7 linked regions of the Homo sapiens genome follow. The protein of the gene in region 6 purifies or fractionates together with the protein of the main gene of each other region. This does not show direct contact. Each region holds a gene or a part of one and is shown on either strand. Other genes may lie near its edges.

Region 1 (3,500 bases), on a different chromosome or scaffold from region 6:
TGTAGGCCGTGTCCTGAGGTGTTTCCTCCAGCAGCGTCACATAGCCAAGCGTACAGGTGAGGATGAAGAGCACGGTTAAGGTGTGGGCTCGCCTGAAATCCAAAAACGCATAAGCATGGTGTCAGAGCTTGGGCAGCATTGCTAAATACTCACGTAACAGGCCCCAAATCCTCTCTACGTCAAGGAGAGGGCTTAAACTCCACTCTCCAACTCCCAACCAGCAACTGGCTGCGAGTCCCTAGCTGGGTAACTCCGAGATGACCCTGCGTCTGCTGGCCAGTCAGGGCTGAGACCAGCCCCCAGGAGGCTGGACAGGAAGAGCCCCGTGTTCCTGGGAAGCTGAAGGCCGCTGCTCAGAGGGCACATGCTGCCACTGGCGTCCAGGGCAGGTATCTGCTATTAAGAGCAACTGGACACGTAAAACACGCGCTTTTCACTGCGCAAGACAAGCCGAGACAACAACTCTTTGGGTTCATGAAATAACATCTGAGATTCAGTGCAGCAGCCCAAGACACCAAGAGCTGAGAAGGGGCCTGAGCAGAGGCCTGCAGAGTGACCGCTGCTAGCTGGAGTGAGCCACGAGCCGTGGGTCTGCCCGTCCTCTGGCCTGTCAGAGCCCAGACGTGGGAGGAGGAGGCAGGGCGCTCCCTTTGCAGTCTTGTCCTGTCCCATCGCTGGTGGAAAAGCCCACAACCAGCCTAGTATCAGAACTGGGGGCCACCAGACCCCAGCCACTGCCTGTGCCAGACACTCGCCTGAGACCCCCTCTGCATGACCATCTGCAAATGGAGGCAGAGACCTAGTTCCTACATCCATCGGAGTGTGTCCTCGGAGAGATGATGCACCCCTCTGTGCCTCAGTTTCCTCATGTCTAACCCAGGTCCTACATCCACCAGAGTGTGTCCTCACGTCTAACCCAGGTCCTACATCCACCGGAGTGTGTCCTCACGTCTAACCCAGGTCCGACATCCACCGGAGTGTGTCCTCACGTCTAACCCAGGTCCGACATCCACCGGAGTGTGTCCTCACGTCTAACCCAGGTCCGACATCCACCGGAGTGTGTCCTCACGTCTAACCCAGGTCCGACATCCACCGGAGTGTGTCCTCACGTCTAACCCAGGTCCGACATCCACCGGAGTGTGTCCTCACGTCTAACCCAGGTCCGACATCCACCGGAGTGTCCCCTCACGTCTAACCCAGGTCCTACATTCACCGGAGTGTGTCCTCACGTCTAACCCAGGTCCTACATCCACTGGAGTGTGTCCTTGGAGAGATGATGCACCCCTCCGTGCCTCAGTTTCCTCATATCTAAATGGGGAAGCTTCTGACTTCCAAGGACATCATGAAAATTAAGTGAACAATGCACTTAAAGCATGTTGCCCAGGACTTGCCTCCATGAAATGTAAACTATTTGTGCCCTAAAGAAATGAAAAGGCAAGTCACAAACTGGGAGAAAATATTCACAATACATATATCTGATAAAACTTTGTAGGCTGCACGCGTCTGTAGTCCCAACGCTTTGGGAGGCTGAGACAAGAGGATTGCTTGAGCCCAGGCGTTCAGGACCAGACTGGGTAACACAGTGAGACCCCATCTCTATAAAAAATTAGCCAGGCGTGGTGGCAGGCACCTGTAGTCCCAGCTACTCGGGAGGTGGCAGATTCGCTTAAGCCCAGGTTGAGGCTGCAGTGCGCTAGGATGATTGTGCCACTGCACTCTAGCCTGGGAGACAGAGCAAGATCTGTCTCAAAAAAAAAAAAAAAAAAAAAAATCAGGCCAGGCGCGGTGGCTCACGCCTATAATCCCAGCACTTTGGGAGGCCGAGGCGGGCGGATCACGAGGTCAGGAGATCGAGACCATCCTGGCTAACACGGTGAAACCCCATCTCTACTAAAAATACAAAAAATTAGCCGGGTGTGGTGGGTGGGCGCCTGTAGTCCCAGCTACTCGGGAGGCTGAGGCAGGAGAATGGCGTGAACCCGGGAGGCGGAGCCTGCAGTGAGCCGAGATCGCGCCACTGCACTCCAGCCTGGGCGACAGAGCGAGACTCAATCTCAAAAAAAAAAAAGAAAAAAAATACTTTTTATCCAGAATTTATAAAGAACTCATACAGCTCAATAAACAATTTAATGAAAAAATAGGCAAAAAATTGAACAGACACTTCACAAGGAAAACATACAAATGGCCAATAAGCACATGAACAAACGAGGAGCAGCACTGGTCACCGTGAAAGCAAATCCAAGCCAGGACACATCAGTACACATCCGCTGGAACGGCTGAAATTAAAAGCATCACAAATCCAAGCCACGACACAGCATCAGTGCACATCTGCTGGAACGGCTGAAATTAAGAACATCACAATGCAGAGTGCTGGTGAGGTCTCGGAGCAAGATGCTCACGCACTGCAGGTGGGACTGCAAAACGGCACAGAAAAGTGAGGCCTATGCTACGTCTGCTATCCAGCCAGCCACATACTCCCAAACGTGGGCCTGAGACAGATGAAAACACAGGTCCAGTCAAAGACACACTCCCAAACGTGGGCCTGAGACAGATGAAAACACAGGTCCAGTCAAAGACTTACATGCAGATGTTTCAGGTATAATAACCTAAAACGGGAAACAAACCAAAACTCTATCAGTGGAGGAAACACTGTGGTCCCTCCGACCAGCGGAGCATGGCTCAGCACTCAGAGGAATGTGCTGCTGGCAACGACCTCAACGTGGATAGATCTCAAAGACACGCCCCTTGGGAGGCCCAGGCAGGAGGACTGTTTTGGGCCAGGAGCTCAAGACCAGCCGGGGCAACATCATGAACATCGTGAGATCCCGTCTCAAAAGATAAAAAAAGAAAAAGAAAAACACGCTACAGACGCCAGGCACAAAAGAAACCTCCCATCTGCTGTCACCCACACACGACTCAAGGAAATGAGTTTGCATCCACGAAAAGCAGACTGGAGCGGAGACACGGGCCTTCCGGATGATGGAATGTTCTGGTGTGAGCGTGGTTGTGGCGGTGCATGGGCGTGTCACCTGCACGTGGGTGCTGCACTGAACGCACCCACACCTGGACTTAGCCGATTTCATGAAGAGCCAGGGTGGAGCTGCAGGACTGCAGGTGGAGGCTCCAGGCTGGAACTTTCTGTATTTTTTGTGCAGATGGGGTCTTGCCATGTGGGTCAGGTTGGATTTTTTTGTATTTTTTGTAGAGACGGGGTCTTGCCATGTTTTCCAGGCTGGTCTCAAACTCATGAACTCAAGGGATCTGCCCACCTTGGCCTCCCAAAGTGTTGGGATTACAGGCATGAAAGTGAATTCTTCTGCCATATTTTACAATACTAGGCATTTAAGACAACCAGAGGTAAATAAAAGTTTCATTGTGACTATCAACCACCTTTTTCTTTAGATACATTTGCATTTGAGTCCTAAGCCATGAGGAAACCGCAGGGAACCTCAGCCTTCCTGCTGAGCTCCACACCGTGGGGCCCTTCAGTACTGAGAGAC
Region 2 (3,500 bases), on a different chromosome or scaffold from region 6:
GCAGATTACTTGAGCCCAGGAGCAACATGGTGAGACTCTGTCTCTGTAGAAAATACAAAAATTAGCCAGGTGTGGTGGCACACACCTGTAGTCCCAGCTACTTGAAAGGCTGAGGTGAGAGAATCACTTGAGTCCAAGAGATGGAGGTTGCAGGGAGCCGAGATCACACCACTGCACTCCAGCCTGGGGGTCAGAGCAAGACGCTGTCTCAAAAACTAATAATTTAATGTGAACTGTGTTTCAACATAGTGTCGTTTATCCTAAGTGTTATTGTTAACATCTAGGTTTCACTCCTTTTACTTCCAAATAATGCTGCAGTGATCAACTTTGTTTAAAGACCTCCTGCTCCTTCCTTCCTTTGAATTATCTCCACAAAATAAATTTCCAAGCATAGTATCAAAAAACACAGATATTTTCAATTTTAATCAGTGTTACCAATTTGCTTTTCCCTCAGTTCTTTGGTTTCCCTGAAGCTCCAGCGGTCTTTATTTTTAAGACATGCTTTGTAAAATTTCTTTTTTTTTTAATTGTAACGATAATCTTCACCTGGAAAAATTGCTAATAGTTACACATTAGTACCTATTACTTTAATTTTTACTCTTTTTAATTTCCTTTTATTGCCCATTTAGCATTTAGTTATTGGATCCCGATACTAGTACATTTTTATATGTGTTACAAACATTTTATGCATTCTTTATCCTTTTTTGTTAGTGTTATGAATTTGTATTGTATTAAGTTTTTATACTTTTAGAGTTAAATCCATCTGTTGATGCCTTTGCATTTTATTTTTCTTCTTTTTTGTAGATCTTGTTGCATACCAATGCTTTTGTATTTTAATTGTTAATATTCCATTACCTGTCAGCTCTTCTGATTTGGTTCATTAAAAATACATGTAACTCTTCTATCTGAAATTGATTTGTTATGAGGCAAATTATAAATCTAAATCATCCTCAGTAGTTCTGTCGAGTTTGCCCAGTTCCATATCTATGTATTTATCTTGCAGAAGTAGAAAGATGTGTGCACAAGGATATTCATAGCAGTACAGTGTAAAATAGCAAAAAAAAAATGGAGGTAGGTTACAAATAGATAATGGTTGAATAAATTAGAAAATACTATGAAATACTATGTAGCCATTAAAGGAAAAAGGAGATCTATGTTTATATCCTAGAAAGATAAAGACACTATTTAGTGAAAAAAGCAAATTTTGGTATAATAGGTATAGGATAAACGTGTTTGTATACATGCATGTAAATGCATAGAAAAGGGTCGGGTGGTTGGGGAGGAGGGAGAAATTTCACTAGGTATTCTGCATGTTTCCATTTTGCTGGATTTCTAGAGAAGAATATGAAGTATAAGCCCAGATGCAAGATGTTTTCCTTTAAAGGCAAAGAACCTAAGAACAGCCTTTGACTAGATTAACTCTTGAAGATAGAGGTGTGACAGCCAAATTTTTGTTTTACCATTAATTTAATGCCATGGTATATACATATTTTAAATCATATTTATCACATGTGTTTTTTCATTCGCATTTTTTGACTCGCATTTAGATGCTTCACGTGCCTTTTAATGTTGGTGTCTTCATGGGAGGCACATTTGAACTAACCTAGCAATTTCCAGAGCACAGCATCTGTACTCCCTTCTAACCTGTTTGAGACACAGCATTTTTAATTTAATTTTTTCATAGGTAATCCATTCACGTGGTTCAAAAGTTTTTAAAAAGGACCGGGCACAGTGGCTCATGCCAATAATTCCAGCATTTTGGGAGGCCAAGATGGGTGGATCACGAGGTCAGGAGTTCAAGACCAGCCTGGCCAACATGGTGAAACCCCATCTCTACTAAAAATACAAAAATTAGCCAGGTGTGGTGCCGCACACCTGTAATCCCAGCTACTTGGGAGGCTGAGGCAGGAGAATTGTTTGAACCTGGGAGACAGAGGTTGCAGTGAGCTAATGTCGCACCATTGCACTCCAGCCTCGGTGACAGAGCGAGACTCCTTCAGGAAAAAAAAAATATATATATATATACATATATAAAATGTTACACAAAGAAAAATCTATCCCACCCCTTCCCTTTATGCCTGGTTTCCAGTGCTCCTCAGCCCCGACTGGTAGCTTGTTATTGTCTCTTTATGCATATACGAGAAAGTACAAATACACAATCTTAATTTTCCTCCTTTTTAAAATATAAAAGGCAGATGCTATACCCACTGTTCTGCAGCTTGCATTTTCTTTTTTTGCCTGATGAATATATCATGGTGATTTTTCCATATCAGTATATTAAATGTCTTCATTCTTTTCTACAGCTGCAGAATAATCCATTGCATAATTGTACCATCATTTATTTAGAGTTACAGCACATTTTAAATTCCACTGGGAATTTGACCCTGAGCCAAACGTACCTAGCTGCATTACAGTAGCATTTAATGGATATCTGGTATTTATACACTATTCTAAGTGCTTTAATCCTGCATTATCTCAGCTCATTTAATTGCCCAGCAGTCTTAAGAAGTAGGCATGATTGTTATCCCAATTTTACAGTTGAGAAAAGAAAGGCATAGAGGAAGAAATAAGTTGCCCGTATCATTCTGAAGTTAACTTTCTTAGGTAAAATTGTGACCACATTAATTTCGAAATGTTAGTTGTTTAGCATAGGTGAAGTCAGCAAACTTTTTCAGTAAAGGGCCTGGCAGAAAATAGGCTTTGCCAGTTGCCGCAGCCACTCAACTCTTCTAGTATGAAAGCAGTCACAGACATTACGTAATGAATGACATTACATAAATGAATGAGCATGGCTGGGTGCCAATAAAACTTTATTTACAAAAGCAGGTAGCTGGCCAGATTTGCTAGTCCCTGCAACAAGTAATTCAGCAGCACCTTAGTCTTGAAGTGCCCTATGAAAGCATCTAGGCCCGTGGCTGTGCGGCAGCCGGCCCACAGGCGTCTTCTTGTTGCATTTTTTTTTTTGCCAACAGGGCCCAGGATTTCAGCTCTTTAACTGACTTCTTTATACCTGCTCCCACCTGTTATTTTGTTCCTGTTTCTGTTATCCTTATCCATGAGTCATTGGGTAGGAGGGTAGTTTAACATGCTCTGCCTTCTCTGTCCTTGAAAATAAATGCACATATTCTCTATACTGTTGCCTATAAGAAATTAAAAACAATACATGTGAAGATAGAGTCCAGAATTCAGGTGCCTTTTTTTTTCCTTTTTTTTTTTTTTTTTTTTTTTTGAGACAGAGTTAAGACTCTGTCGCCCAGGCTGGAGTCCACTGGTGCAATCTTATCTCACTGCAACCTCCGCCTCCTGGGTTCAAGTAATTCTCGTGCCTCAGCCTCCCTTGTAGCTGGGGTTGCAAGCGTGCAATACCATGCCCAGCTAATTTTTTTTTTCTCTTGTACTTTTTAGTAGAGAGGGGCTTTCACCATGTTGGCCAGGCTGGTCTCAAATTCCTGACCTCAAATGATCTGCCTGCCTTAGCCTCCCAAAGTCCTAGCATTACA
Region 3 (3,500 bases), on a different chromosome or scaffold from region 6:
GCTGATTTCTACAATATCTTGCGGAGGTGCCCCCTTTCCTTAGAGGATGCATCTTTAACACTCTCAGAGAGGCTGGGGCAGGAGCTGTCCACACCAGGGCCTGCAGCAAGGGCCCGTCTTCCCCAAAGTGACTTGGGAGAGTCTTCCTGGCCCGCAGCTTTTCCACAGTGTCAGGGACACCTCCTGCCCTCCCTTGGGATGAGGCCTGGTCTAGGAGCTGGGGGCGTTAGGGTGCAGTTTCTGGGACCCAGTGAAGGCCCCTGGGAAAGACTGGCAGTTAGAGTTAGGAGAACTCTTCCCTCATCCCTTTTGCCCTTCTCCTTTTCCCCTTTTCTTTTTCAGCAGTTTTTGGATAACATTTCAAACTTAAAGAAAAGTTGCAGAGGCCAGGCATGGTGGCTCACGCCTGTAATCCCAGCACTTTGGGAGGCTGAGGCAAACAGATCACTTGAGGCCAGGAGTTTGAGACCAGCCCTGGCCAACATGGTGAAACTCATGTCTACGAAAAATACAAAAGTTAGCCTGGTGTTGGTGGCGCATGCCTATAGTTGCAGCTACTCGGGAGGCTGAGACACAGGAATCACTTGAACCCGGGAGGCGGAGGTTGCAGGGAGCCGAGATCACACCACTGCACTCCAGCCTGGGTAACAGAGTGAGATACTGTCTCAAAAAAAAAAAAAGAAAGAAAAGAAAAGAAAATTTGCAGGAGTGCAAGGAACTCCTGGGTACCGTCTCTCAGATGCACAGGTGGGTTATGTTTTGCCTCCTTCTATTCTCTCTCCACCCCACACAAACTCACATGCACACAGACACATACATTTTTTTCTGAACCATTTGAGAGTCAGCTGAAGACGTCATGCCATTTTATTTGCCCTCTATACTTCAGTGTATATTTCCTAAGAACAAGGCTCTTCTCTCACATAACCATGGTACAATAGCAAAGTCAGGAAATTTAACATTAATACAACCCTGCGATCTAGGCCACAGTCCATATTTGACTTGCAGTCGTCCACATAATGTCCTTTATAGCTAAGTATTTTTGGGGAAGGAGTTTTGCAGTGTGGGGGTTCTTTCAAAAGAGGTGTGATTTTCTACCTCATAAGCCTTTTTAAGAAAAAGTGTTTCTAAAAGTTAGAATGTTTGTTGTGGAAAATTTGGAAACTACAGAAAATTAAAAGAAGGAGAAAATAAAACCCATTCATAATTCCAGCTCAGAGGCTGAGTGATCGACCAGAAAGGTGGTGGAAAGACTTTCTCAGCTCCTTCAGCTCTGGTGACCTGGCCACACAGACTCGTGATCCCTCCACCACCCACACACTAGTCAGGAGCCCCGCAGCCAAGTCCTGGGGCTGTGGGAGGAGCCGGCCCCTGTCTGGAGCTGACGGTCTTTCATGCTCCTGCCCACCCCTTGGGCAGGTGCCCACCGAGCAGGCAGACTTAACCAGCCTTGGTGGTGCCTTTGTGGTGCATATCCTCCAGGTGGGGAAGGGTGGAGATCGTTAATAAATATCCAGAACTTGTTTGAGACTTGAAAAGAAATGTTGCAGGCCCACTCTTGTCTGGTCTATACCCCTTGCTTCCTGGACTTGGCAGAGGTTAAGGATGGGGCCTGGAGCGTGATTGAGGGAAACAGCACTGGCCCCATATCAGTGAGCTCTTGGGTGCTTCATGTGGTTGTTAGACTTGCCTTTTAATGAGCCTCTTGGCCCCTACCAGTGGGCTACGGAAGAAATAAAATGTGAAATTTTACCATGTGAAGTTTGCTGTTTGCCAATGACTGTGCTTCTCAAAAGTTCCTAGGGAAAGGTTTTAAAACTGGTGCAGGTAGTGAAGTTTGGATCTCGCTTCCCTGCTTTGTCCGCTTAGGTGGTCCATTCGCCATAACAGCTGGAACTGAGAGTGGCTCTCCCCTTTCCTGGCCCAGAACGGGTCTTTGCTAAGCGAGTCTGGTTTCTGGAAGGATTTTGTTCTTAGAAGCTACTACGTCATTGTCCTCAGCTCCCCATCATTTGTACCTCAGTTTCCCTGAGCTGTAAGTCTATGTTATGTGTGAAAATGGGCCTCTGAAGGTCATGATCAAAAGCCTTGAGTATTTTTCCATGTGTTTGTTTTTTCTACTCCGGCCCCAGACCCTCTCCTTGAAGGAGCTGGCCTTGAGAGTGACTTCGGTGGGCAGCCGCCCAGACTCCACACACCCTGCTGAGTCCACGTAACGCCCAACCTGGACGGGCCAGAGCTGAAGGGCTACTCTTCAAAGAAACCCTTTGAAGTGCAAACATTTCCTTTCCTGAAAAGAAGGGAAATTGAAATGAAAACGTATTGTTCTGTGCAGACAATGTTCTCTTCGATCAAAGAGGGAGTGGGGCTTATAAAGGGAGATGCACAAATTAGAGCTTGATGTGGCCAGTGGTGTGGATGTGAATATTCATCCCTGTGGAGGAAAATAGTGGGGTCTCTGAGATTTGTAAGATTGTATTTTCCTTTTTTTTCTTCTTTTTCCTTAAGGCTCTGAATCTAGGTCTAACGTTCTATTTAATGATGTCTCTCCTTTGTGTTTTTATCTTGTGGTAAGCATTTGGGAGTGTCTTTCAGTAAATCATGATACCATTTCCATGTTAGAATACTATGTAGCCAGTAAGAATGGCGTTTTCAAAGAACATTTGATTTTGTGGGAGAAACTTTAATGTTAAAAGTGAAACCATCTGGGTGCAATTTCCCATGTTCCGTGTTAGCTTAATGAGATATATGTATTTGCACAGAAAGAAAAGACTGGAAAAATTGGACTTTGTTTTTCTCACTGCAGTGTTTGTGGCACCTAAAATAGTGCTCAAGAAATATTTATTGAATGACTATTCTTATAATTAGTAAAACTGTATTTAAAGGAGGAATGTCTTTGAGCTAATGTTTTGGCAGGTGGATGGGACAATATATTATTTTAAGTTTCTGTTGTAATTTTGCCCTAGCAGCTCAGTTCTGGTAGATTTTGTTCTTTGGCACACATACATACCCCATTTTGCACTTTGGTACAAATTATACTGTGAATGGGTGACTTTGACATTTATATTTTTGGAAGAATCCAGTTCTACTGAAATCAGAGTATCAGATGTTGTCTTTTTCCTAATGTTCCCAGATGGGGTAGAATTACAGCTTCTTCTTACTTACTCTGTAACTAAGGAACCTTTGGGCCAGTTTGTCCTGTCCTGTGGTTGAGAATTTTTGCCTGGTTTGCCCAGGGTTTCTCATCCTTGAGCATCCAAGGCTACCAAGATACACTGTTCATATGTCGTCCTGGTTTCTAATGGATAGTTATCTAAAAATGCAGCTTCCCATTCTTACCTGCACTGTAGGTTAGCTTGGAAGATGTCCATCCCTGGTCTCAGTGGTCTTGTTCAGGGAGGGTGACTGTCACAGCTGTCCTTTCCTCTCTGGTGAGATTGTTTCATTCCTCCTTCAGGCACTTGGGATTCAGAGCCCTGTTGGCTGCCTCTTCTGTACTGTCA
Region 4 (3,500 bases), on a different chromosome or scaffold from region 6:
GGCCCACTGTCCTCCTGCCTGGCCAGCTTCTCAGCCACCAGGACTCGTGGGCCTCCACAGCTGGCCACCCCCAGGGAACCTTCTAGGACCATGGGCGGTGGGGGATGTGGATGTGCGTGGAGCCCCTTCCACGTGGGTAGCCACAGGAGCAGCACCCAAGGCCAGAGATAGACACGCCTGGGTGAAGGTCAAAGGCCTCGAGCCACATCAGCCCTGAGTTGGGGAGGCTGGGCCCAGATAGCCCTTGTCCCCGACCTGCCCTGCAGGTGCCCCTTTGAGCCCTAGACTCCAACTACTTCTGGGGTGGGGCTGGCAGCCCCACCCCACGAAGTGCCAGTGGGAACCAGGCCCAGAGGTAGCAGGCCTTGGACGTGGCACAGGGCTCCATCTAATCACCTTCCTGGGGGGCTCCTAGGACCCACAGCTGAGGGAAGGGGCCAGGAGGACTGCAGAGTGGTGGCCAGGCCTGCAGGGCTCCATACCCACAGAGGCCATGTGGCGTAGCACAGGAAGCTCTTCTCACATCCCCTGCCAGAGAGGCCTTGTGTCCACAGAGCATGCAGTCCACTCTCCCACCAGCCCAGGGCAAGACCCCCTCCACCCTGCCCTCCCTGGAGGCCCTGCACCCCTCAGGCCCAGCTCACAACACACAGGCTCCAGCCAGGCACTGTTCGGCCTCCCCACGCCCACACCACATCTGCAGGGCTCTCCTGGGATCCAATGGGAAGCAGCAAGTATGTGGTGCATGGGCACCCAAGTGACCACAGCAGGGGCAGCCACTGCCACTCCCCTCCCCAACAGTCCAGTGCTGGCAGCCACATGGAGGTGCAGCCTGCTCCACACACCCCAGCCCACAGGGGCTCCAGCCTGGACACCCTGGGTGACAGAGCCTGTTCTCAGGCAAAGGCCAGCCTGGGACAGAGCCCCACCTGGACCTAGACCCGCTCCCGACACCATGTCCCACTCACCAGCATCACCACACACCAGTTCAGGATGCCACGGTAGTTGCTGAAGCCACTGTCAGAGCTGAATAAAGAATCCTGCAGGCGATGGCACCTGACAGAGCACAACACAAGCACCCCCTGAGTGGGCACCAGCAGGGCAGCGCCACCCCCGCAGGATCCAGGCCCCCACCCCAGTGTCCTCGTCTGCCCTCAGGCCCCACTCCTTATTTACAACCAGGAGGAGAAGCCAGGCAGAGCCACACTGTGGCCTCAAGACCTACAGTGGGCAAAGCTCTCCGGACCCCCAGAGCCTGCACCTCCAGGCAGCGGGACGAGCATGTCAGGGTCAGAAGCAAGCCCAGCTGGCCCTGCCCGGACTGGACCTACATGGAGCTTGGACACTCCAGGCCTCACTCTCCAGAGGCCTCTGGCCACTGCCATGTACTCTGGCTGTGGACTAGCACTGGGGCCACAAGCAGGGTCCAACCTGGGGATGGACCAGGGGGCACTGCCCAGCACTGTGGGGACCAAGTGGTGAGGGTTGAGTCCACCCTATTCAGTTGGCCCATCCCAGCACCCGGGAGCTAAGGGGTCCCCACACTTGGACGTGCAGGCTCAAACTGGCAAAGGCAGGCCAGGCGCCAGCCACACACCAGCCTGACATGCACTTTCCCAGAGGCAGGGATCCAGCCCTCGTGTGCCGGTGTAGCCTCCACTTGTTTGTGATGTGTGCCCAGGCTGAGGGGGCTGAAAGGAACCCACCCGGGGCTAGGTGCCTGCTGGCTGAGAGGCTTCCAACAGAGGCAGGCACCCACCCATGATCTCCCAACCAGCGCTGGAGGGGCACAGGCAGACCCTGCCTGGTCCTCAGCATACTGCACAGGTGGAAGAGGGCACCCAGCCCAATAGAGGGACTGCCATATAGCTAGGACAAGGACAGCAAGAGCTTGGCCAGGCCCCCACACGTCCTAGGAAGCAGTGCTGGCTCATATACACTAGCTGCAGGCCCGCCTCACCCCCCATCTGCCGTGCCACTGGGACACCACACACAGCATTGAGCAAGTCCTCAACTTTGTAAGAGGAGAGGCCAGAGCCTCCCTTTCCCTCCCGCACACGCACATCTGCCCCTCAGAGCCCCTAGGCAGGGAGAGTGGGCCTGAGAGCCATGGCAGGAGCCCCATGAGGCAGACGCCCTCAGGGCACCCAAGGCAAGCTGGCTAGGATTGGGGTCGGCAGTCAGACGGCCCTGCCCAGGAGGCAAAGGGCCAGGGAGGCCGAGAGGCAATGCCAACAAGCCCAACCTTTGCTCCCCAAGACCAAGGTTGGTGCAACACATGCCCCATCTACACCTACACAGTTCCTGGACAAGTCTACACTAGTCCCCAAGACCCCCAGGCAGGGAGGATGCTCACACCTTTCCCTCTGCCCATCTAGACTGGAACACAGGGGCAGGCAGCTCCACCCAGCCCCTGCCTCTCCCAGCTCCAGCCTGAGCGCCCTGCATCCACCCACCAGGTCCATCCTGGGCCATGCAGTGAGGCTGTGGTCTCCACCAGAGCCTCCCTCCTCCCCAAGTTGGCAGCTGTCTTCCCAACTGACCACCGCCCTTGGCTCATCTCCCCAGCCTACTCCACTCACTGCCTGCCCACAACCAGGAGGCTGGGTGTAGACACCGCCAGAGCCCCAGCACCGTGACGGGAGCAGGGGCACGAGGCCCAACTGCCCAGCAGCCTCTCTGGGCTGTCTGTCTGGGGGCCTCTCCACTGCCCCCTCTTCCCCAAGTTCGAGCCCATTTGTTTTCAGCAGAACAATCCCAAGCCTCAGGGTTGGCCTTCTTGTACCACGACCTACCAACCACAGCTGTTTCACAGCAGTATGACCCCTGCCCCCTTTGAGCCACCAAGGACACCATGCTGGCTTTATCCATGCCCATCTCCAAGATGAAAACAGGAGTCGGGAAAGGGTGGTGCTTCCCAAAGCTCACTGCAGACAATCCTACACAAGCTTTCTCAGGGGCCCCTTGACAGGCTTCCAAGGCCTTCCTCAACCCAGCCACAGCCTCACCTCAGGCCCTTCACAGGCCTGACCAGCCCCACCCAGAGGCAGCACCCCCACTGCGCTACCCCTACCCCTCACAGGCCCCCATGAGGAGGAAGCCCCAGTCCACCAGTGCCCACAGAGCTCCAAGCAGTCAGTGCGGCCAGCAGCATGTGGGCTACAGGGCAGGCTGCATGGAACGGCATGGGGAGGTGGGATCTGCCCCTGTGCCTAGAGCACCTTTATCACCCTCTCACTGACTGGAGGATCTGCCCAAGCCTCTGCACCTTCCAGCTGTCCCTACACCCACTCCCTAGTCCAAGAAGACTCGGAGCAGCCTGCCCTCCCTCCTGCAGCCCCCAGGCCCACCCAGCCAGCAGGATCCTCTCAGTCTCACGGCAACACTGAGACCTTGGCACATGCCCACCCGCCACCCTGTCTCCAGGTTCAAAGTGTGCCCAAAGGCACAGGTCCCAGTGAGTCCCACACTTGGGGCCCACACAGTGCAGCTCCAGGGCC
Region 5 (3,500 bases), about 26 Mb from region 6:
CTCTTTTCTTTCTTTATCATTTAATAATATAAATATTTATTGAGTGCTCTGTGTGTCAGGTACCTTGCAAAGTATTTTACCTGCATTATGTCATAGAACCCAATTTTAAAAAACTGTTACTTTTTTTTTATCATTAAACCTGAGGCTCAGAGAGGTTAAATGATTTACTCAAAGTCACAAACTTAGGCTTGTGCTCTTAACTACTGTTCTGTCTTACTATGAGTCACAAGGAAGAAACCAAACATCTTCAGAGTTAGGGAGCGTCCTTGATTCCAGAACACTTCTCATTCTAAAGAGAACTATCCTCTTTCGGTGATGCTAGTAGATGGGTAGGTCAGAGCAGTGCTGGCAGCTGTTCATCTGGATCCTCCACAGACTTCTCTCTAGTTTCTCAGAATATCTTGGTAGAGTATATGTGAAAATGTGACCTGGATAAAAGAGTGTTCAACAATGGTTCCATCCCCTGCTGGTGAGGAGAGCCTCAAGGGCATTGTAGGAGTGCTCTAGCCTCAGCTCTCCAATGTTGGAAACTGGCTTAGATGAGGATAGAGAGGGCCTCCTCTTCAAGATTTCAGGAAGGGTGAGGGAAGAACATAGCAAATACTATCTAGATCCAGAAACACTGGAAAAAACTGCCCATACCAAGACGGAGATTAAGAGGGATTAGGATAGAGATAAATCTGTGTTTAAACTTCTGATCAGAAGAGATTGAATTATTTAAAAGGAATAGCATGAATAACAGGCTAGGAAACTTGCGTTTTGCTGGAAATGCCTTTGGATCCTTTACATCAAGAAGGAAAAGTGTCTAAGATCGAAGTTGCCATAGCTTACCTTCTGCATCCTTGATGTGAGACGTTTTGGGATTAAGATATTCTTTTCACATCACACACAACAATAGAAGTCTCTACCTTGATCTTCAAAGTGAAAAACAAAGGCAACACCTAATGACACTTGCAATTTAAGTACTAAGCGTGTGATACATTCTAGTTGTGGATGAAAACTTCTTTGTGCTTAATGGAATGCCAAATGATTTGAGCTGGAGAACTCTGTTCAGTGTGTGAGCCATGGAACAGCAGCATCTTTCGCCTGAGAGCTTGTCAGAAGTGAAGCATCTCAGGCCCCATTTCAGACCTACTGGGTTAGAATCTACATTTTAACAAAAGTCTCAGATGATTCATAGGTACATTAAAATCTGAGAGGCACTGGATTGGTCTGGCTCAAAAGAAAATTTAAATAAATATACCTATATGCCCAGGTGTCACCTTCCGTGATTCAAAATGTATAGTTCTTGGCAGGGTCCAGGCATCTGTTGTTTTTTTCTTTTTCTCTAACTTCCTAAGTGATTGTGATTATACACCCCTAGGAGAAATACTGATCCTCTTGAACCCCGTAACTTCTGAAATGTAAAAGCTCGAGGTCACAGGCTAATTGGAACTAAAGCTGCTAATAATAGGAAGTGAAATATTTTTTCCATTAAGCCATATTGCAAATTTTCTAAAGCTCTTGATTAACCAAATTCAACTGCATCCCTGACTCTTACAATATTTGCAATGCTATTGCTGTCTTATTCTGAAAAGTTCTTTCCTGGATGGGTATAGTGGCTCACACCTGTAATCCCAACACTTCGGGAGGCAGAGATGGGAGGATTGCTCAAGGCCAGGAGTTTAAGACTAGCCTGGGCAACATAGTGAAACCCTGTCTAAAAAAAAAAAAAAAAAAAATTATTTTCTGCCATTAGAACTCATATTTTCTGGTATGGCCTCAGAATCACCAACCACACACAGAATTTGCAACATATAAAAATGCCTCTGCTGCTTCTCCAGCAAGAGAGCTGCATGTATTCTTATGTATATACATTTGTGCCTCCCCCTTTAGATAGAACCATGTAGCTGCTGAAGGAATGAGCCCATGATTTCTCAGCTGAAGTAACTCCTCACCATGTGGCCTGATCATTTGGCCTATGGAGATGTTGCAGGAGGGTGGAATTGACAGCTGCCACTTTATGCTTTCAGTTACTCAAGATGGTAAGGAGTTTCTAGAAGGCTGGTAATTATAAGTTTGAAAACAGCATTAATGTAATCTTTTCAAAATGAACGTGGCTTGGTGGCTCTGTAATATGTTCTAGGCCTGTGGCTCCCAGCATCTGGTATTATGAAATGTTCGTATTGTTTGTACCTTTAAATGCTGTAAAGATGAAGAACCAAGTTTCCAGTTGGTAGAGGAAAAAAAGCGTAAGGCAACCCTGGGAGGCTCTGGATCAGAATCTATTGAAATGATTGCAGATAGAATGAGTTGCAGTCTGTTTATACTAAAGCAAGTGGAAATGTTTTTGAGATTAGTCAGCTTCAACACCAGTTCTACAACATTACTCTTATTTGTGTTGCTTCATTCATTCAATTAACAAAGAGTATGAAGCACTTACCAACTTCTCAGACACTGCTAGGAGATAGTGAAGAATAGGACAGCTGTGATTCCTGCCTTCACGGAAAGGCAGCAAGACCACACTGAACACATGATAACTAATTTGTATACAAGTATAGCAAGTGTACAGAAATACACACCTACATAAACACATCCTTCTCAACCTGACTTACCTGATCTCCCCTGTACATTATTACTCCAAATTCCAAATCTCTCAGGTGTTGGGAATAGGGGAGGCATTGAGTATGTAGACAGGAAAAAGGTTTTTTTAAATTTTACTATCCTAACCCACAGCTCAGATCCTTCTATTCCATTGAACAAATACTGAGCACCTACCATGTGGTAGACACTGTCTAGGCCCTGAGGATACAGTCAGGAGTACAACTCCACCAGCCTTCCCAAATCCTCCCAGAATTCTCCTGCCCTTCGATGCCCATTTATTTGCATTTGAGGCTGGCACCTGTCTTCCTCTGATGGCTTATGTGTTTCTTCTGAATACAGAACTTTAAGAGGTCTGTCAACACACAGTAACATTTTAATCTCAAAATCTTTATCTAGGCTGGACATGATGGCTCACGCCTGTGATCCCAGCCCTTTGGGAGGCCGAGGCGGGTAGATCACCTAAGCTCAGGAGTTTAAGACCAGCCCGGGCAACATGGCGAAACCCCATCTCTACCAAAAATAGAAAAAATTAGCCTGGCGTGGTGGCATGCATCTGTGGTCCCAGCTACTTGGGAGGCTGAGGTGGGAGGATCTTTTGAGCGTGGGAGGCGGAGGTTGCAATGAGCCAAGAACGCACGCCACTGCACTACAGCCTGGGTAACAGAGTGAGACGCCGTGTAAAAAATAAATAAGTAAATATAAATCTTTAATAAGGATTGCTTTTCATTAAATAACCTCTGACAGTGTATGTGTGTATATGTGTGTGTATATACATACATATATATATATTTTGAGACAGGGTTTCACTCTATTGCCCAGGCTGGAGTATGGTGGCGCAGTCATGGCTCACTACAGCCTCTACCTCCCTGGGCTCAGGTGATCCTCCTGCCTCAGCATCTTAAGTAGCTGGGACTATA
Region 6 (3,500 bases):
GCTGCTTACTAGTTATGTGACACTGAGCAAGTTAATTAATCATCTTGTACCTCTGTTTCTTCATTTGTACAATAATAGGTCCTACTTAGTAGGACTCTGGGGAGTGTTAAATGATATATAAAACCCCAACATTAACTGGCATATAGTAAGTGTTATATGTGTTAATTGTTACGACATTCTGTGGGTTTTTTTGTGTGTTCCTGTAGATACTACTCAGCTAACCTATAAACACAATTGATAGTTTCGTGTGTGTGTGTGTGTGTGTGTGTGTGTGTGTACTTTGCATTTTAAAATGTCTTTTGGTTACTGAGGGTTTCCATAAAAATCATAAATATAAGATGCTCACCATCAATATGGTGTACTTCAGCAAAGAAGAAGCTAGGAGCTAGAAACCACCTTTGATCTCTTTAGTTTACATAGTGTCTTACCTTTTATATTGCTGGTTTCATCAACTGGTTCCCATTAGCAACCAAAGTGGCAGCAGGATTTGTGTGTTTATGTAGTGATAATTTTTGTAGTGAACAAAAATATTATACTTTAAATATTTTAGTCTTGAATTGACTTTTCCGCTGAGGAAACTCAGTGGAAAAAGTCAATGAACTGAGGCACTCAGTTCATTTTTTTTTTTTTTAAGGTAGAGTCTTGCTTTGTCACCCAGGCTGGAGTGCAGTGTGCAATCTCAGCTCACTGAAACCTCTGCCTCATGGGTTCAAGTAATTCTCATGCCTCAGCCTCCCGAGTAGCTGGGATTACAGGTGTTTGCCACCACACCTGGCTATTTTTTTCTATTTTTAGTAGAGACAGGGTTTCACCACGTTGGCCAGGCTGGTCTCAAACTCCTTACCTCAGGTGATCTGCCCACCTCAGCCTCCCAAAGTGCTGGGATTACAGACGTGAGCCACCATGCCTGTCTAGCACTCAGTATTTTTTATTGCTGTTGGGGACAGCAGGACACTTAACAAGTACTAATGAAAAAAAAATTTGGTAGAGTGGAAAAGGCACTGGCTTTGGGCCCCTGGATTGCTACCAGGCCTGAAGTCAAAAGACACGGCTTTGAATAACAGCTTAAATGCTTATGGACATTATGACCTTGAACACGTTATTTAGCCTCACATTTTTCATCAACACAATGGGGATACTAGTAAGTATATGCCTTATAGGATAGCATTGTGTGATCTAAGTGACCATACATAAGGCACCAAGAAGAGTGCTTGGGATGTAATAGAGCCTCAGTACATGTTAGATCCTCTCACCAAACCAGGCCCCTTCCTCTTGCTGCTATCTTCTTAAGCATTAACCAGCAATGCAACCTCAAGCAAGTCACTTTTCTTTTTTAGACCGTGAAGTTTTCTGACCCCTTCTCTAAATCAATTCTCTCATTTATTCTTGTTCAGCCTCGACTTCCATTCCCCTGATATCCCCACTAACCGTTTTCACAGAGAGCATTGAAAAATTCTCTCAGCTTCCTCCTCTCTTACCCTACCTGCGTCTCCATCAGTCGTTTCTTCTGGTTTTGGGTACCCTCCTCCCACTGAACACCCATCAAACCCTATGCTCTGGATTCCATCATTTTTTGCCATTGAATCTGTCAGCTTTTTGCTCTCTCACCTGTAATTTCAGCCTCTCCTCGCCCCTGCATCCAGGCTTCTCATACTCTTCCATTTAAAAAAGATTCCTTCCTAGATTCTTCATCCTTTCTCCAGCTATTGCTCTCTTTTCTTTCTCCTCAGTTTAGGAGAAAAAAGTGTACATATCATCCCACATCTTCCCCCCAACCCAGCTCTCTCAACCCACTGGTTTCCATTCTTGTCACGCTACTGAAACAACAATAGTAAAGGACATAATTCAATGGACATATTTCAGTTTCTCAGCCCATATCTTACTTGACTCTTCTATCATATTTGACATTATGAATCTTCCATTGACACTCTTCTTCTCATTCTCCTTCCAGTCTGGTCATTCTTTCTTAGTTACAGTGACTGAATTTATTTCCTGTGTCCCTTAAATATTGGTGTGCTCTAGGGTTCTGTGCTCTCTTTCCTTCTTACTCTCTGCCCTTCTCTTAGAGTAATCTCATGTACTTTTATGGTTTTTTATTCTCATCTGTATGCTGATGTTCTTTTCTCTCCTCTGTCTGCCACACTTCTTGCCTGTGTTCCAGAGCTATCTATTCAACTGTGTTGGACGTCTTCACTTTGGTATTCCACAGACTCCATGTGTCCATAAATGAGCCGTGTTAACCATCTCTCTCCTCCCCTCTTCTCTGCTCTCTACATCTCTCTCCGCACAAGCCTGCACTTTCTCCTAAATTCCCTGACGTGTTTGATGGAACAACTGTCCATCCCATTCACCAAACATGAAAGCTGGGTCAATCCCTGATGCCACTTCCTCCTTTCTTCACATCCAGCCAGTGACATCTGAGCAGAGAACTGAATGACCAGGGGTCAGCTCTATGAAGATCTAGGGGAAGAGCTACAGCAGACATGAGACTGAGTTTTCACTTTCATAGTGATGTGCTCTGAGCAAACTGGCCCAGAATTGGCTGCTTCCTACAAGCAGTAATGTTGAGAGGATCATTTACACAGGAAAGCACTTAAACAGATCAAATAAGGAAAGACATTGGCATAATTTTTTTGAGACGGAGTCTCACTCTGTCACCCAGGCTAGAGTGCAGTGGCGCGATCTCGGCTCACTGCAACCTCCATCTCTCGGGTTCAAGCAATTCTCCTGTCTCTGCCTCCAGAGTAGCTGTGATTACAGGCAAGTGCCACCACACCCAGCTAATTTTTGTATTTTTAGTAGCGACAAGGTTTCGCCATGTTGATCAGACTGGTCTTGAACTCCTGACCTCAGGTGATCTGCCCGGCTCGGCCTCCTAAAGTGTTGGGATTACAGATGTGAGCCACCATACCTGGCCCATAGATTGTTTTTACTGACAACATTTTCAAACAAAATGCTGTCAGGTTGTCACTAAAAAATGGATCTTGGATTCTTTGCAGCTCCTCAAATTCCTTTTTGTTCTTTCTGTTAGTTCTTTGCTGGGGTGTTGGTGGGGGAAATGGGGGGCAGGTGGGATGGTGGGCACAGAATTTTCCTGACTAAGCCGAAGCTCTCCTGCCTCTTTTACTTGTTCTGAAGACTTTTGAATTTGAGATTAACAACACAACCATCACCTCTTAAAAGTCTGTATAACTTTATCTTGCATATATTTTGTTATTAAATATGTCTTTTAGTAGAGAATGAGTAGGAAGACTTTGGTCTTTATAATATTCAGTTTTATGTGGGTTATATCCTGATTTTTAAAGTTAGAAACTCATAATTTTATGTAATTCTATGTAACTAAAAAGATTGATTTGTTTTTATAATCTATATTTGTATAAGTATGGGACTAGATTACACAAAACAACATTGATCACTGGAACTAAGAGCTTTCTTTTGACCACAGGCAAACAGCTCTTTCCAGTAGAAAAGAGCTGGGCTCCCTCACTGTTTCCTGGCTC
Region 7 (3,500 bases), on a different chromosome or scaffold from region 6:
AGTGCAGGGATCAAGGTGGGAGTTATTTTCCTGACTCAAGAAGTTCTTTCTTTATGTCGTGTTCCTTTCTAATAATGGTTTTCATAGCAGATGGTCAGTATTTAGGTGTCTTCAAGTAAATATCATAATTCCTATTTTATTTCTAGTTTCACTGTGCTAAGGTTACTGAAACTGTCCCACAAAAAGAAAATGATTGTGTCTATGTGGAATGAACCACATAAACAGTAAATGCAATGAGAAGAATCTCCTAGTGCCTTGAAGTGACCATATCTCGCCCTAGTCCATGGTAGATACTAAAAGGCTTTATTGGCTGGGCGCAGTGGCTCATGCCTGAAATCCCAGCACTTTGGGAAGCTGAGGCAGGCGGATCATCTGAGGTCAGGAGTTCCAGACCAGCCATGGCCAACATGGTGAAACCCCGTTTCTACTAAAAATACAAAAAAATTAGCCAGATGTGGTGGCACACACCTGTAATCCCAGCTACTCGGGAGGCTGAGGCAGGAGAATCTCTTGAATCCAGGAGGCAGAGGTTGCAGTGAGCCGAGATCACACCATTGCACTCCAGCTTGGGCAACAAGAGTGAAACTCTGTCTCAAAAAAAAAAAAAAAAAAAGAAAGAAAGAAAAGAAAAGAAAAAAAGAAAGAAAAAAGGCTTTATTACTCAGTCTTGAGGCTCAGCCCCCATAATCCATGTTCATCATTACTAGGTTAATATTAAGACTGTTGAAGTAACATGGGGCTACCCCCAAGTAGACACTCACCAGCCCTTTCACAAATAAAGTGGCATCAAAGGGGAAGGGCTTCCTTTCATGTCAGAGGAGGAAGCGTATGAAGCTTAGGAGCAAGGGTAGACCCAATGGGATTAGTGTTTCCTCCAAAGACAGTTGTCTCGTAGATCCAGAGCTGCCACTGTAATCACCAACCACGTTCTCCCAGGGCACTACAGAGTAGGTATTACTGAACCATCCCCACTTTGGCCAACCGAGTTCTTCATTACCCGTGGGCCTTCTCGTTGTCTTTGCTCTAGGTTATTATGGTTACTGGTGATCATCCCATCACAGCCAAAGCTATTGCCAAGAGTGTGGGGATCATTTCAGCCAACAGTGAAACAGTGGAAGACATTGCACATCGCCTCAACATTGCTGTGGAGCAAGTTAACAAACGGTAAGCACAGGAGCAGCATAGTAAAAATTCCAGTTTATACCCATGGGGCCCCACTGGCTCTAAAGAGCTGCACTACTTGGAACAAATCAGCTTTTTGCTCTCAGAGTTATGCTAGGCTTGTTTGAGCTATTATTTGCATATCCATGTATTCACTCTAATTTCACTGAGCAGCTAATATGTGCCAGGCACAGTATTGATACCATGAAATGACCCTTTATGTGTTCCTTGTTTGAAATTTCAAAATCCAGTGTGCCCTGGGCACAAAACCTATGTGCCCAATTTAGAATAAGAAAAACTGAAACAAAGGGTTTATGTGAAATTACTTGCCATAGATGCAGTTGCATAATTTGGAATCGTAAGAACCCTGTGGGTTGTTTCATGCACCCTCCTTGGTAAGCATCTTGGGTATTTATCCACCCGGTTTCATAACGTGTAGCTATGTAAACACACCCTTCTTTTTTATTTGGTAATAGATAGAATGGAAGCTTCCTAAGGAAAGTTTTTTTCCTTGTTTCTCCTAATTCTTTTAATCATGTTTATCCTTATTCTTTTAATCATGTTCATCCAACTGTACATTCACTCATGTATTTGTTCTTTCAACAAGTATTTACTGCGTGCCAACTATATACCAGGCAAGACCTGGAACTACAGTAGCAAACTGAACAATACTATCCACACCGTTGGGGAATCTTTCCATCGAGCCAAGGAGACACAAACAAAGCTAACAATGATGTGGCCAGTGTAATGAGGGAGCCACACAAGGCTAGGGAGCTGGGCATGCAGGAGAGTGGCCTGGACTGTGCCTGGTCTCCATGAGTCAAAGACTCCGAATTCTCAGGTTGAGAAGTAATGTTCATTAGCTGGGTTATGTTTTCACGCATGCGGGAGATGAGGGAAAGACCAATGCACCTCTTCAGTTTCCCCAAGCACTTAGGTCTTTTAGGGACACACAGCTGTCAGGTCATAACAAATTACCACGTTAGACAACCAACCAGGGTTCCCGCCTCTGGGCACAGCAGCAGTACCTGAAGTCTAAGAGTCTTGCAGTGCCCTTTAGTATACATAACATCCCTCTATGAAAACAACTTTGGGGCTTGTTTATTTGTTTGGTTTTGTAAGATAATCGGATTATACTTTTTTTCACTTTAGAATTTTAAACAAATTTTGTTTGTTTGTTTGTTTGTTTATTTAGACAGAGTCTCTCTCTGTCACCCACGCTGTAATGCAGTGGTGTGATCTCAGCTCACTGCAATCTCCACCTCCTGGGTTCAAGCGATTCTCCTGCCTCAGCCTCCTGAATAGCTGGGATTACAGGCGCCCGCCACCATGCCTGGCTAATTTTGTATTTTTAGTAGAGACGGGGCTTTGCCATGTTGGCCAGGCTGGTCTCAAACTCCTGACCTCAAGTGATCCACCCACCTTAGCCTCCCAAAGTGCTGGGCTTACAGGCGTGAGCCACCACACCTGGACTAAAAGAAATTTTTTTAAGAGTAGTCAAGTGCAGTAGTGAGAAGAGGGGAAAGAGTAGAAGTTTGATCTGTAACTGACTGTGAACAATCAGTTGAGCTAATTCACTACTACCTTCAGACCAGCCGAGTCTTCTTTTTTTAGATACAAGGTGTCCTGTCAGATCACCCAGGCTGGAGTGCAATGGTGTGATCATAGCTCACTGCAGCCTCGACCTCCTGGGTTCAAGGGATCCTCCCCTCTCAGCCTCCCAAGTAGCTGGGACTACAGGCTTGTGTCACTGCACCCAGCTTCATTTTAGCAGATTTTTTTTTTTTTGAGATGGAGTCTTTCTCTGTTGCCTAGGCTGGAGTGTGGAGTGCAGTGGTGAAATCTCATTGCAGCCTCCACCTCCTGGGTTCAAGGGATCCTCCCCTCTCAGCCTCCCAAGTAGCTGGGACTTTAATTTAAAATTTTAGCAGATTTTTTTTTTTTTGAGATGGAGTCTTTCTCTGTTGCCTAGGCTGGAGTGTGGAGTGCAGTGGTGAAATCTCATTGCAGCCTCCACCTCCTGGGTTCAAGCAATTCTCCTGCCTCAGCCTCCTGAGTAGCTGGGGTTACAGGCATGTGCCACCACACCCGGCTAGTTTTTGTACTTTTAGTAGAGACGGGGTTTCACGATGTTGGCCAGGCTGGTCTTTAACTCCTGACTGCAAGGGTTCTGCTCGCCTTGGCTTCCCAGAGTGTAGAGATTACAGGCGTAAGCCACTGCGCCTGGCCCATTTTAGCAATTTTTAATGAAAGTTGTATATAAGATACCTTATTCCTGCATCTTCTCAATTGCTTCTTTTTTATATTTGCCCTTCCTTCCCTACTTAGGAAGATTTGTT

The links.
Region 1: the proteins of ACKR2 (region 6) and PTDSS2 purify together in Homo sapiens (affinity purification with mass spectrometry; one large-scale study listed by BioGRID and IntAct). This does not show direct contact.
Region 2: the proteins of ACKR2 (region 6) and VKORC1L1 purify together in Homo sapiens (affinity purification with mass spectrometry; one large-scale study listed by BioGRID and IntAct). This does not show direct contact.
Region 3: the proteins of ACKR2 (region 6) and SLC7A1 purify together in Homo sapiens (affinity purification with mass spectrometry; one large-scale study listed by BioGRID and IntAct). This does not show direct contact.
Region 4: the proteins of ACKR2 (region 6) and DGAT1 purify together in Homo sapiens (affinity purification with mass spectrometry; one large-scale study listed by BioGRID and IntAct). This does not show direct contact.
Region 5: the proteins of ACKR2 (region 6) and ARL6IP5 purify together in Homo sapiens (affinity purification with mass spectrometry; one large-scale study listed by BioGRID and IntAct). This does not show direct contact.
Region 7: the proteins of ACKR2 (region 6) and ATP12A purify together in Homo sapiens (affinity purification with mass spectrometry; one large-scale study listed by BioGRID and IntAct). This does not show direct contact.

Annotation. Positions count from the first base shown.
Region 1 is NC_000011.10:456,779-460,278, reverse strand, and holds part of PTDSS2 (phosphatidylserine synthase 2), read right to left. Parts: intron 93-3,500; coding exon 1-92. UniProt on the Homo sapiens protein: Catalyzes a base-exchange reaction in which the polar head group of phosphatidylethanolamine (PE) or phosphatidylcholine (PC) is replaced by L-serine. Catalyzes the conversion of phosphatatidylethanolamine and does not act on phosphatidylcholine.
Region 2 is NC_000007.14:65,949,574-65,953,073, forward strand, and holds part of VKORC1L1 (vitamin K epoxide reductase complex subunit 1-like protein 1), read left to right. Parts: intron 1-3,500. UniProt on the Homo sapiens protein: Involved in vitamin K metabolism. Can reduce inactive vitamin K 2,3-epoxide to active vitamin K, and may contribute to vitamin K-mediated protection against oxidative stress.
Region 3 is NC_000013.11:29,585,689-29,589,188, reverse strand, and holds part of SLC7A1 (high affinity cationic amino acid transporter 1), read left to right. Parts: intron 1-2,396; exon of another isoform or gene 2,397-2,464; intron 2,465-3,500. UniProt on the Homo sapiens protein: High-affinity, low capacity permease involved in the transport of the cationic amino acids (arginine, lysine and ornithine) in non-hepatic tissues.
Region 4 is NC_000008.11:144,320,353-144,323,852, forward strand, and holds part of DGAT1 (diacylglycerol O-acyltransferase 1), read right to left. Parts: intron 1,057-3,500; coding exon 969-1,056; intron 1-968. UniProt on the Homo sapiens protein: Catalyzes the terminal and only committed step in triacylglycerol synthesis by using diacylglycerol and fatty acyl CoA as substrates. Highly expressed in epithelial cells of the small intestine and its activity is essential for the absorption of dietary fats.
Region 5 is NC_000003.12:69,087,937-69,091,436, forward strand, and holds part of ARL6IP5 (PRA1 family protein 3), read left to right. Parts: intron 1-3,500. UniProt on the Homo sapiens protein: Regulates intracellular concentrations of taurine and glutamate. Negatively modulates SLC1A1/EAAC1 glutamate transport activity by decreasing its affinity for glutamate in a PKC activity-dependent manner.
Region 6 is NC_000003.12:42,815,945-42,819,444, forward strand, and holds part of ACKR2 (atypical chemokine receptor 2), read left to right. Parts: intron 1-3,500.
Region 7 is NC_000013.11:24,700,908-24,704,407, forward strand, and holds part of ATP12A (potassium-transporting ATPase alpha chain 2), read left to right. Parts: coding exon 1-15; intron 16-1,027; coding exon 1,028-1,164; intron 1,165-3,500. UniProt on the Homo sapiens protein: The catalytic subunit of a H(+)/K(+) ATPase and/or Na(+)/K(+) ATPase pump which transports K(+) ions in exchange for Na(+) and/or H(+) ions across the apical membrane of epithelial cells.